4 separate regions of the Homo sapiens genome follow, and regions 1, 2 and 3 are each reported to be linked to region 4. Evidence: microRNA targets listed by miRTarBase, many of them from high-throughput screens and not tested one by one. Region 4 holds a microRNA gene; each other region holds the end of a gene's coding sequence.
What was found. The annotated mature microRNA hsa-miR-6818-5p reads UUGUGUGAGUACAGAGAGCAUC and lies in region 4 at 2,317-2,338, opposite strand. An mRNA with a match to its seed (bases 2 to 7 or 8) in the 3' UTR can be bound and repressed. Matches are read on the target gene's strand: a 7mer-m8 pairs with bases 2 to 8, a 7mer-A1 pairs with bases 2 to 7 and ends in A, and an 8mer does both.

Region 1: miRTarBase lists FBXL20 as a target of hsa-miR-6818-5p. The part of its 3' UTR that is shown has no 7-base or 8-base seed match.
Region 2: miRTarBase lists EFNB1 as a target of hsa-miR-6818-5p. Seed matches in the 3' UTR shown: 7mer-A1 at 1,048-1,054.
Region 3: miRTarBase lists GLRA3 as a target of hsa-miR-6818-5p. Seed matches in the 3' UTR shown: 7mer-A1 at 2,999-3,005.

Annotation. Positions count from the first base shown.
Region 1 is chr17:39,258,664-39,261,753 of GRCh38, reverse strand. It overlaps FBXL20 (F-box and leucine rich repeat protein 20), which reads left to right. Exons shown (of 15, transcript NM_032875.3): 15 at 187-3,090. The coding sequence ends at 294. Among named protein-coding and RNA genes, the nearest start is that of STAC2, 34 kb to the right of the region's middle.
Region 2 is chrX:68,840,333-68,843,332 of GRCh38, forward strand. It overlaps EFNB1 (ephrin B1), which reads left to right. Exons shown (of 5, transcript NM_004429.5): 5 at 1-1,828. The coding sequence ends at 322. Among named protein-coding and RNA genes, the nearest start is that of EFNB1, 13 kb to the left of the region's middle.
Region 3 is chr4:174,641,018-174,644,225 of GRCh38, reverse strand. GLRA3 (glycine receptor alpha 3) reads left to right here. Exons shown (of 10, transcript NM_006529.4): 10 at 162-3,208. The coding sequence ends at 440. Among named protein-coding and RNA genes, the nearest start is that of HPGD, 120 kb to the right of the region's middle.
Region 4 is chr22:30,006,176-30,009,391 of GRCh38, reverse strand. MIR6818 (microRNA 6818) reads right to left here and starts at 2,343; the gene lies at 2,279-2,343. MTMR3 (myotubularin related protein 3) reads right to left here. Exons shown (of 20, transcript NM_021090.4): 10 at 2,073-2,278; 11 at 1,360-1,491; 12 at 263-374. It overlaps HORMAD2-AS1 (HORMAD2 and MTMR3 antisense RNA 1), which reads left to right. Exons shown (of 5, transcript NR_110541.2): 5 at 196-646.

The DNA.
Region 1 (3,090 bases), not on the chromosome of region 4:
TCTGGTCATTGAGAACAACCTAGGATGGAACAAAGTAGAACCCAGGCCCTCTAACATCCTGACCAGTGCTCAGCCTTTGCCCTGCTTTTATGTTCATTGAGCCCCTCGGTAGTTTTTCTAAGAACCAACATTGCTCTTTCTGTTTAAGCCCTCTCTTAAACGTTTAATGTTTCTGTCTTGTTTCAGACCCATTTACCCAATATTAAAGTCCACGCCTACTTCGCACCTGTCACTCCACCCCCATCAGTAGGGGGCAGCAGACAGCGCTTCTGCAGATGCTGCATCATCCTATGACAATGGAGGTGGTCAACCTTGGCGAACTGAGTATTTAATGACACTTCTAGAGCTACCGTGGAGTCTCTCCAGTGGAAGCAACCCCAGTGTTCTGAGCAAGGGTTACAAAGTGAGGGAGGGCAGTGTCCAGATCCCCAGAGCCACACATACATACACATACACACCCTTACCCCCATCCACTCTAGCTTTGTGACCATGGGACTGAAGTTTGTGATGGCTTTTTTATCAAGTAGATTGGTAAAATTTAACCATTCCTGTTGAGGTGCCCATAAGAAAATCATAGGCCAAGATAGGGAGGGGCATTCCAGCAAACCCCGTGTTAATGCTACTGTGGTTTTTAAATTTTTGTCTAGGGGTTTCTTTGGGGATTTTAGAACAGCATCTGCTGTCCTCCGGGGTCAAGAAAAGCATGGAAAGACAATATATGATGTACCCAGGGACCAGAAAGAAAATTTCTTTGCATCTTAGAAATGGTAGACATTCATTGTGACTAAAGAGCTTCTATGCTTCCTTGTTTCCATGCCAACATGCTGAGCATGCTCACAAAGAAGGCTCGTCCATTCCTCCTGTGTTTTAGTATTTGGCCCAGAGGTTTCCTAAATGGTTGCCTTGAAATCACTGTGGTCCAAATGTAATTCTTACACACTCAAATTATCACTGTCTGTAGCACACTTGTGCACCTGTCTTACATTCTCTGTTGCTCCCCCCCACACTCTTGCTCAGTCTGTCACCTGTTCAGTCTGCTTACTCACTCAATTGTTACCCTTTTGCTGTTGTCGTGTTTACAGTTTGCATTTTGAATGATTAGTTGGGATTACCAAACATTTTTTAAAAAGATATTATCAATAAATATTTTTTTAATTCTAAATTTTACCATTAGGGGACCCTGCCTGAATCTTTGCCAACCTGCAAGGAAACTCTAATGAAAGCAAGAAAAGTTATGAGAAGAAACTGTTTTGATGAAAACAGATGCTACCTTTTGGTTTCTATTTTATCTTCTGATATGTGATAATTCGCATGGTATCCCCAATATTCCCCCTACATATTCTTCCTTCTGTCAGACTCCACCAACTGTATCATAAGGAAAGAGAGAGATGTATTATTAGGAAAGAGTGAAAATGATAAATCACAAAACAGAGCCTGAAAGTCCCCAACACCCAAGTTCAGACATTAATGATTAATGTTATTATATATTTACTGAAATCTAGGAGTGATCAGTGGCATCTCTGACCTATGAGGTTGTTTTAACAGGAATGCCACTAGAGGAGCTGTGTATTCTAGCCAGTCTGTTTCTCTCTTTTCCCCCATTTCAGCCTTTCAGGGATACAAGAATGGCTCTATAACAGCTGGTCAATTGTATGTCAGTGTTAATGGATTCATATCTAGTGTTGGCACCCCAAAGGGCCAGAACCTTCCCATAACCTGTCAGTCATCTCTCTTTTCTGCCCCAGTCTTTTTTTTTTTTTTTTTTTTTTTTTAAGACGGGTTCTCACTCTTGCCCAGACTGGAGTGCAGTGGTGCGATCTCGGCTCACCGCAACCTCCACTTCCCAGGCTCAAGCGATTCTCTTGCCTCAGCCTACCGAGTAGCTGGGATTACAGGCATGCACCACTACTGCCTGGCTAATTTTTGTATTTTTAGTAGAGATGGGGTTTCACATGTTGGCCAGCCTGGTCTTGAACTCCTGACCTCAAATGATCCACCTGCCTCAGCCTCCCAAAGTGCTGGGACTACAGGCATGAGCCACCATGCCCGGCCCTGTTCAGACTTCTGAATGAAGTATGAATGTAGCCAGGTGAAGCATTGAGGCAGCTGAAAGAGAACACTGAGAGGAAGTAAGGGGTTTAGTGTCTCTGCTTAGCCTGGGCACTAGAACTGAGGGAGGAATTTAGTGTCCAGGACTCAAGAGTCCAAGAAGAAGCACCCTCTGTCTTCCCAAAAAATCAGAGGATAAAGGAAGTAAAATGAGTTTTTAAAGCATAAGAAGAAAATTTCTAAACCCCAAGATTAGAAACCCAGTGTGATTTTTAGTAGGGTGATTTTGGCGGGGGGTGTCCTTTGAGACATTAATGTGCAATCCATCATAATATTAATCTTCTATATGATCCAGACTATTAAAAGGCTTGTTTTATTTATTTATTTTATTTTATTTTATTTTTTTAGAGATGGGGTCTCGCTATCTTGCCCAGCCTGGACTCAAACTCCTGGGCTCAAGCCTTCCTCCCACCTCAGCCTCCCAAGTAGCTGGGACTACAGGTGTGTGCCACTGTACCCAGCTTAAGAGGTTTGTTTTAATGCTGCAGTTGCTGATTATACCAGCATATATAAGAATAAAGTCTGATTTATTTATCCATTGATTTAGAAGGCAATTGGATGAAAGGGTCTTAGAAGTCTATACTATCCATTAATATTTATCATATTAAATTTATTTTAAATCCTGTTTTATTGTGCCGCTTTAAAAACGCAGATTACTTGTTTATTCATTCCCCTTTCCCCTTATTCTCTTTCAGATTACCTTATAAGGAATATAGTTTTTAACATGAAACTCAGTTTCTTGTCTGTACCCCTACACATAAAAATACATACGTGCATACACACATACTTCCAGATGTGGTTAATAATATTCAGATCCCTAGGTTACTCAAACAAAACTAAAGGAGAGAACTATTTAGGGGCCATCTGCTTTAAAGTTTAAGGTGTTTTGTTGTTGTTTTAGTGCCTGTACAAATTGACCATAAAACCCAGATTGATTAGTGAGTGTGGATTTGAGTTGCCTAAGTTGAGGCTATTAAGGTA
Region 2 (3,000 bases), not on the chromosome of region 4:
GTTCGCGGCTGTCGGTGCCGGTTGCGTCATCTTCCTGCTCATCATCATCTTCCTGACGGTCCTACTACTGAAGCTACGCAAGCGGCACCGCAAGCACACACAGCAGCGGGCGGCTGCCCTCTCGCTCAGTACCCTGGCCAGTCCCAAGGGGGGCAGTGGCACAGCGGGCACCGAGCCCAGCGACATCATCATTCCCTTACGGACTACAGAGAACAACTACTGCCCCCACTATGAGAAGGTGAGTGGGGACTACGGGCACCCTGTCTACATCGTCCAAGAGATGCCGCCCCAGAGCCCGGCGAACATCTACTACAAGGTCTGAGTGCCCGGCACGGCCTCAGGCCCCCGAGGGACAGTCGGCCTGGACCGGACCTCTCCTTTCGCCCCCACACCCCCTCCCCTTGCCAGCTGTGCCCACCTTTGTATTTAGTTTTGTAGTTTCTTGGCTTTTATAATCCCCCTTTTTCCCTGCCCCCTGGGCTTCGGAGGGGGGTGCTTGTGCCCCTAACCCCCATGCTCTTGTGCCTTCCCCCTCTGGCCAGGCCTCTGGGCTCCGTGGGGGCGCCCCTTCTTGGAAGGCAGGGCTGGACACTGATGGACAGCAGGCAGGGAGACAGTCCCCTGGCCCTGCCCCTCCCTCGCCCCCCTTGCCACCTTCCCAGGACTGCTTGTCCGCTATCATCACTGTTTTTAATGCTTTTGTGTTCATTTTTTAGCTGTCAACTCATTTTCATCTGTTTTTTGAAGAAAAATGGAAAAATGTAAAAGGCAGCCCCTCCCCAGGCTTTGTGAGCCTGGCCCAAGCCAGTACAAGAGGGCCTGGGGCACGATGTGGTCAGCCAGGAAGCATAGGATGCCATTTCTTTTATAGATTCCTTGGTATTTCTGGTGGGGTAAGGGGCAGGCCAGGGCTGTTCACGCCCATGAGGGAAGAGGAAAGTGCCACTGGGCAAGGTGTCCCACCCTCCCCTCCTGACCCTCCTACGAGGCTTATCCTGGCAATGGGGTAGTCACTGCCACCCTTCCACACACACACACACACACACACACACAAAAAAAAATCCCTTCCTTGTGGGATTCTTGGGCATCTCCTGCCTCCCTCACTCTCACGGTAATTAATGTCTTAATTGGCTGTTGCCTGGGGAACAGGAGAGCTGCTGCAGGCAGATGACCTCATGGGGGGTGGAGGGAGGTGAGGTGCCCAGGTGGCTATTTGCCCTGCAGAGCTGGGAGTTTCACCCCCACCCCCCACCCTGTTCTCTCCTTACCTTTGGCATCCTTTGGCCTGGTGGGGAAACAGAGGCCCAGGGTGGAGACCTAAGCGGGTATAAGACCAGGTGGCCTGCTCCTTTTCTGGGCCCTAGCACAGGTGGGTAACCCCCACCCAACCCAGCTCCTGCTGCTGTCCCAGTCTTGGGCTGGGGCCTGGAAAGAGGAAGAGGCTGCCTGGGGCTGGGCCAGCCCGCTGTGCACTTTGACCCCAGTTCCTTGCCAGCACGGCTGCTAACAGACTGCCACTTGAGTGCGCCTTGCAGGCACTCCCAGAGCAGCCATGGAAGGAGCTGGCCCTCACACCATCCACCTCCACACTGCCTCCTGGCCAGCTGCCCACCCCAGTGCCAGGTGGGAGAGGGAGCAGAACAGCCAGCCCCTTCCAGGTGGCAGTCGGAAGGGTTTTTGTTTTTGTTTCTGTTGCCATTTGTGTAAATACTAGTCTTTTTGGAAAAAAAATAATGTAAAGATGTTTTGTATAAACTCTGAATTATTTTCTTGTTGCTTTTTTCTTAGAAAAAAATGAGAACTAAAAAAAAAAAATTAACCACATGGAGAAATGGGTGTAAAATGGTGTCGTGATGTTGGGAAATGGAGAGTGAGAGTTGTGTGCGTGCGTGTGTGGTGGGGGTGTGTGTGTGTGCGCTTTCCTGTGCTCAAACCACTGGTGACTGGGGCAGGTACGGGCAGATGATGGCTATCCTAGTGGAGCAAGATGTTTTAATGCCCTATGACCCTCCTGCCACTCCCCTCACCCCAGGTTTTTCTGCTCTCTTGTTCTGCTGTCATGGAGCCTGAGACCATTTCCCCTGTTCATCCTGTCACCTCTGTGGCATAGGCCACGGGCATCTGCCCAGTCTGGCACAGGCCCAGTTAGAGAGGGTTAATGGAGGAGGGGATGTTCCCATGGGGACCTGGGTGTGTCCACAAAGTACTGCCACCACCTAGCTGGGGCTAGATCTGGGACCTGCTGGCAGGCCCAGCCCTGCCCTGCCTCAGGACGCCTGGAGGTGGATAGAAATAACTTCCCAAGATCTGAACTTCAGCTGCAGCCTACTGGGTATTGGGCCTGCTTCAGGCTGCCCAGTTCACCTCTCAGCCAGAAGAATCTTGCTTCTGAGCTGGGCCACACCACAGCCACCACCATGGCATAGTTGGGGGCTTCTGGCCAGCAGTCGATACCCTCAAGCTAGAGCAGCCTTGAGCACCCGGTCTACCTCCCACAGGCTGATGAGTAACTTGCTCAAGTCAAAGAGTGTGGTGAGGGCCCTGAAGAGGGTTTGGCCTCCATCCCACAGCGGAGAGGCAGACTGGCAGGGCCTGGAGCCTTCCTGCTCCAGCCTGGAGCCGCCTGCTGGTCTTGTGGGGGGACTCCCTGTGGAGACGGCTAAGACAGATGTCAGGGGAAGAGGACAAGTGAGATCCAGCAGCTAAAAATGGGGTAGAAGGCAGCAGAGGAAAGAGGAAGAAGAAGGAGAGAGAGAGTGATCCAGAGTAGGAAGCCCCAGAGAATTAGCCAAGGTGCCACCCGGGCTATGAGGGAAGTGGGGAGCTGGTGGAGAAGAAAGGGGGCGGAAAGCCACAGGGCCTGCAGGCGGAGGGAAGGAAGGTTGGGCTAGTGTAGGGCTGGGCCTGGCTGGGGTGCTCCTGGAGCCAGCTGGGGCAGAGGCTGTTTATTTGGTTTCTCATTAACCAAAGGAAGTGCCTGGATCAGATGGAGCCTCTGCT
Region 3 (3,208 bases), not on the chromosome of region 4:
CAATAGGGAATAAAAACCAATTCATCTTTATATGCTTCGGTTATCTTTTCCTTATATTAATGTAAATATTAACCATGATAAAATTGGTTATGATTCTGAGATGCCTGTTATACATGCTCTATTGTATTATTAAAGGGCCTTGTCACATTTTTCTTTGACAGGATGATGAGGTAAGGGAAAGCCGATTCAGCTTCACAGCCTATGGAATGGGACCATGTCTACAAGCAAAGGATGGCATGACTCCAAAGGGCCCCAACCACCCTGTCCAGGTAATGCCAAAAAGTCCTGATGAAATGAGGAAGGTCTTTATCGACCGGGCCAAGAAGATTGATACCATCTCCCGAGCCTGCTTCCCATTAGCTTTTTTGATTTTTAATATTTTCTACTGGGTTATCTATAAAATTCTTAGGCATGAGGATATTCATCAGCAGCAAGATTAAGTCTCTGGGGGCATGCAAATGCAAATGGTCAATTCAGAAGAAAGTGTCTCTGCCATAGGTGTGTATGTGTATATGTGTGCGTGTGGTATACAAATGATGACCATTGTATTAAAATGGCATATGGAAAAGCTTTGTATTTTGGTTAGCTATGCAAAGTCATGAGAAAGATGAGATTCTTTTAATGAATATAAAATATTTATTAGGGGATTCTATTTCATATTAATTCCAGGTGATTTGTTTTTTCACAGTAAACCATGTAAGTGGAAGCTTTACTGCCAATGTGTTTATATGTTATATAATATCTCATAATAGTAGACATGAAAACTACTTTGAAATTCCTTGATTTGTAATTCAATGCTATTAAATCATACAAAAGCAAATTTTGCACAGTAAACCAATAGTTTGAGATTTAAAACTATTTTCTTATAGTATAGTTACAAAATGGGAAAATAATTAGTTACAGTGGGAAATTCACTCATATTAATGGAGGATTGTACATATAAATACTATTTAAACAACATATGTAATTTTGAAAATTTTTAAATAAGAGCATTAAAAGACTTTAATGATTTGGAATACTAAATTTAATTGTTTAGAATATTAAGTTTTCCTCTGTGCAAATTTAAAACAAATAACAAGAGATCGTGTTACAGTCACAATCTACTTTTCTTAAACTTTGTATCTCTAGGAACGAAGGTGGAAATACGGGAAACAACTTTGTTTTTAAATAAGTATTATAGCTATGTATTTTTAGTTATTGCCAAACATTGAACAATTCAAGCCAGCACCCTTGTTTTTGTTAGACTTTTAATAGCTACTTAACTGTATGTGATTGTGTTTAATAATTTGATATAACAGGACAAAATTCAGTAAGACTTTTATATTTTAGTTTAGAATGTGACTTTAAAATTCAATGGGATTAAAGTATTTACATTTTGATAAAAATGAATACAATGAAAACAAAATGGATTCATGGAAGATTTTTTAATAAAAACCATTTTCCCATCAATGTTTTATGGGTCTCAACTCCTATCTCCAAATATAAGTAGGGAAAGTTTTAATTTTAAATGATATAAGTAAGTCATTTCTATAAAGTGAGGACTCTTTTTCTATTTCTGAATTAATGATTTCAAAATCTAAGCCATTCGCAAGATGTGAATAATTTTAAATGAAATTTTTACATAAAATTTTTCAATGACCCCATGGGATTACTTCAACAAAAACAGAGCATTAGTAACTTGTTTTTTGCAGTGTAATTGGGTGCAAATGTATGATAGAGTTCTTGGTAAACAGAACCAGACTCTGACTCTTTTTCAGTTTTGCTATTTTTTTAACTATTTTTACCATAAATTTATTTGGAAAAGCTTTGGAATGCTTTTTAGGTATTTTAATTATTGGTCAGATGCACAAACTCAGTCCACCAAATTATTCACAGAGAAAACTTTAAAGATTAAGAAAACAATGAACTCAGATGTACAATAGAAAAGCCAGTTCTTTAACAAGATGCTATTTTCTACCCTTCAACCACTTTCAAATTAAAAGCAAAAACTACCATTTAAAACTAAAACCTTTACAATGTTATTGTACATCAGCTTATACAATTGTAATTTTTTAAAATAACATTTTAAAAAATAGTAAATGTTAAGCAGTTTTTGCTAGTAAAAGACCAAGTTCCCCTCCTTTATAAGTAACTTAAAACAACACTATAAGGAAATAATATCATGTTTGGCATTATGTGCAAATGACACAACCAAAAGAATTTGTTACTCTGTAAGTACCCACGTTGAGGACTGTGCACCTGAAAATTAAACATATGCTTCTTCATTTGGTGTGTATTTAACAAAACCATGGAAACATATTCTTGTTCTAAAGATTAGAGCAAGATATGTCATTTGTATTCCTTGAGAATTAGCAGGAGAGTTTGAGGTAATTATAAACTACATCATCTCGATGTGTCTCTGAAATACCTGAATACGTTTTTCTATACTTTCCACATCTTATTTCAAAAGTTTCCCAACATTGCTTAAGTGAATTCTGCCAGGAGCAAACAGAAATATAATGAATGCAAACATGCTTACTTCCAAAAGAAATTCACAGACATCACTTCTTTCCATATTTGAGAATATTATAAATGTGTCTTTGTTAAATCAGAAACTTAGAAAGTGAAAATACCAAACATGAGACAATATTGTCAACAAGGACGTTGGTACATTAGAAATCTATCTCAAAAGTATTACACTTTCCTTAGGCATAGTTTTCCTTTCCTATTATATTTGTCACTGTCTTACTGCACTAAGAAAATACTTTAACAGCTTTCACTCACAAGGCAACAGTGACAAGGTGCATGTGGCTGAATCCAATATGTTTAAAGGAATGTGTCTCCTCCTTCGAACTCTTATAGACCTTTTAAAACTGAAAAATTACATTGCAGTTAGCATCCTGAGATAATATTTGCCTCAATAAGCCCTGTGTCCAACCAGAATATTTTAAATTAAACCAACCACAAAATTATTAATGGCAAGAAATTAAAAATGTGTGCATATACATTAACTACTAAACACACAAATTGGAATTCCAATGTGCATATTCTGAAGTATTTTAAAATAGCCACATTAGAAAATATGGGATTTTCATGTATGCAGTTTATATCATTTTCTTAAAAAGAATTATTTGTATGTCAATCATTGAAATATTTGATTCCATAGCATATGAATTTATAGGCTATCTTATACATTAGCATATATGTGCCCAACCTTTTCTTTCTTTCC
Region 4 (3,216 bases):
CTGAGATTTCTTCTGTGCTGCAGATTTTAAAACCTTTCAAATGGCTGTATTTTCTCCCAACTCTTCCTCTGTGCTGCCACATTTCAGACCCAGCAAGGAGATACTTGCAGAGACTGGTCTGGTAACTGAAGATTACCAAGAAACAGAAGGAAAGACTGCTCCAAATTAATTTTTTTTTCTTTTTTTCCCCCTTAGTTCAAGGAAAGAAGCAAACTTATTATTTAAGAGCAATGCAAAATGAAAGCCAAGGCCAAGGACTTACTTTCCCGGATCTGGCATCTGAGTGCACAGCAACCGCAGAGACTGAAAACTCCTCCGAATAGAATGAATGTTTGCCATCCCCATAAACACAACTTCACAGTTTGGGTAATACTCTGGAGAGAGTAACAATAAAGAGAACACAAATACGTTGAACTTAAAGCCCACATGGCCAAATTTAAAAGCAAACTGGCTATAAAACAAACCCACTGCAGCTTCTGATTAACGAAACTGAAATGTTTTGAAATGCTTAACTATTAGCCCAATCCTTTATAATAAGAGGAACACACTGAATTTTAGCTATCTTTTCAAAAAGCGTGAAAAGGGAAGGTTAGATTTGTAAAGAAGATACTGACATAAAATAAAAGCTATTATTTTTTAAAAGAAAGGCCTACTTCGATCTCACTCTGGCTTTACTTCTTGGGCCTTATCTAACTTGTGGCTTTGAAATCTCTTTGAAAAGAACTCCACAGAACAATGCGTTCACACATTCAAATTTCACCTTGGTACAGCTGCTTTCAATTTCCAGCTTAGACCACATCTGAACAAAGAGCCTGGTGCCTCTGCCTGTGCCATAGGCACTGAGGGGGGTCCCTCCTTGGGGAAAGCTAGCATTCCAACAGTAATGGTGTTACAGCTCAGGACAGAGATACCTTACTAGGGTTCTGTATTTACTGCTTCAATTTTCACCCCAGGTTTTCTAAGGAGAGGCCCTTGAGGAGTTTGCTACAAGGCCAGTGGTGAGCATACCCTCTGTCAAAGGCAACAAAAAGCTTTTAGACGGCTGAGAAATTGAGCCCACTAAAGCAGCAGCTTCCAAACATGAACAGGTCTTATTATGGGGAAGATCTGCTTTCCTTATCACCTACAAGTTGGCACAAGGAAGGAAGATTATGTGACTTCACTGCACCTCCTCCTCCATTTCTCCTCAGAAAAGAACATACAGTGTTAAGAATCCAAAGAGAAGCTCTGGCACTCTCACGACAGGATGGATGAGGAATATGGCTTGCCACTTATTTCAAATTGGGAACTAAGTCTCAGTTGGGCAAGGGCTACACTCACAAGGAGAAAGTATGGGGAACAAAGCACCATACACCTCACCTGGGCATTCGCAGCCTCCTCCTTTGGCTCGGTTTGCCACAGCAGCTGCATAGGAGCGTGCATCCAAGATCAAAAGCTTCTGCGGTTGGATGGCTAAACTCTCTGCTCCTGAAGCATTTGACAGAGAAGAATCTAGGGACACAGAGGGAGAGGGCATACTAAATGAGCCTGTCTCTCCCAGAACTGTGCAGAATTAGACCCACAAGCACATCTTATGGCACAAAAAAGGCTCAATAAAATGAAATCCCCTAACCAAAACCCTTGATACATAGGATTTTTCTCTTTTTTTCTATGTGGCCTTCTTATGAAAGATGAGAAGGATTTATTCTCCAAAACTGACTCCCAGAGTACACATGGGGTTCACACAGCCCAGTCTCTTATACTTCATTTCTGTATCTGTTGTCCTTTCATGAAGCCTGGCATTTCCTGCCATGGTCTGCAGATACTGCAAGTCCTCTATTACATAAACACTCCATTTTTGTCACAATGGCAAGAAAGACAACAAACACACTAATATCTTGATTCAGGTTTGAAACAAAGGGTCTTCTGATTCTCTGCCAAGACCCATGACTCCTCAATCAATCCCATCAAGTGAAGCTCTGCACATTCACTTCTATAAAAGTAAATCTATGTCTTGTAAGGAAGAGGCCATTTCAAGAAAAGGTTCTTAGATGCTATAAAAATCATTGCCATGGGTCCAGGGAGCACCTTACCGAACTCCACGTCAGAAAGGTCTCCCCCATTGGGAAAGTCTCGAGAAGTGTTCCTAGTTGACAGCTTGCTGCCACTCGATCGGGAGTCAGAGGCACAAGCTTTGGCTACTGACTGTACCAGATGCTCATCATCTGCATTTCGCCAGCCCCACCAGCTAACCTCTGGCTGTCCACAGCGGGCAATGACAGCTCCATTGCTCTGGTGCCTGTGTGAGGAACAAGAGACAACAACTGTACCCATTCAGATGCTCTCTGTACTCACACAAAATAGATTTTAAGTGCCTTAATGAACAGTCTAATTCTAGGTAAGTGTTGGGTCAGCTTCAAGTCCTCTCAGTATTAAAGAGGGTAGAAATCTTACACAACCAACAAGAACAAACAACAAAACCTGTGTGTCTTTCTCAATTACCATAACATCACGGAGATCCCTGTAAAGTTACCCAAAAAAATGACTAACAGGGGTCAGGCATGGAGGCTCACTCTGCAATCCCAGCACTTTGAGAGGCTGAGGCAGGAGGATCACTTGAGCCCAGGAGTTCAAGACCAGCCTGAGCAACATAGCAAGACCCCATCTTTACAAAAAAGTTTTTACAAATTAGCCAGGCATGGTAGCACATGCCTGTAGTCGCAGCTACTCAGGAGGCTGAGGTGGAAGGATCCCTTGAACCCAGAAGGCTGAAGTTGCAGAAAGCTATGATTGTGCCACTGCACTCCAGCACTCCAGCTTGGGTGACAGAGCAAGACCCCATTTCCAAAAAACAAAAAAGAATTAATGTGTACTCTTAGTGAAAATAAATCAATATTCGTAACTTAAATCTATAGGTACTACACTAATTCTGCTACCCAATAGTGAAATCTGCTACCTTCTTAATGCTGAACCAAGAGCCCGCCTCTGGGAATAAAACATTTACCTGGCCCACAGTGAACTGCTTTACAAAATCTCCTGAGATTTCATGAGTCACAGACTGCTCTTATAATAGGCAGATAGCTCAATGAGCCAGCTACCCTTCCTAGGGCTCTTAAGAAAGAGAAGAAGAGCATCAACCTCAGAAAACCATACTCTGACATATCCTTTTCCAATAAGACAGACCAGAAATCACAGTCTACTTTAAGGTGCTATTAAAACCCAGACTTTTCCTAGTTA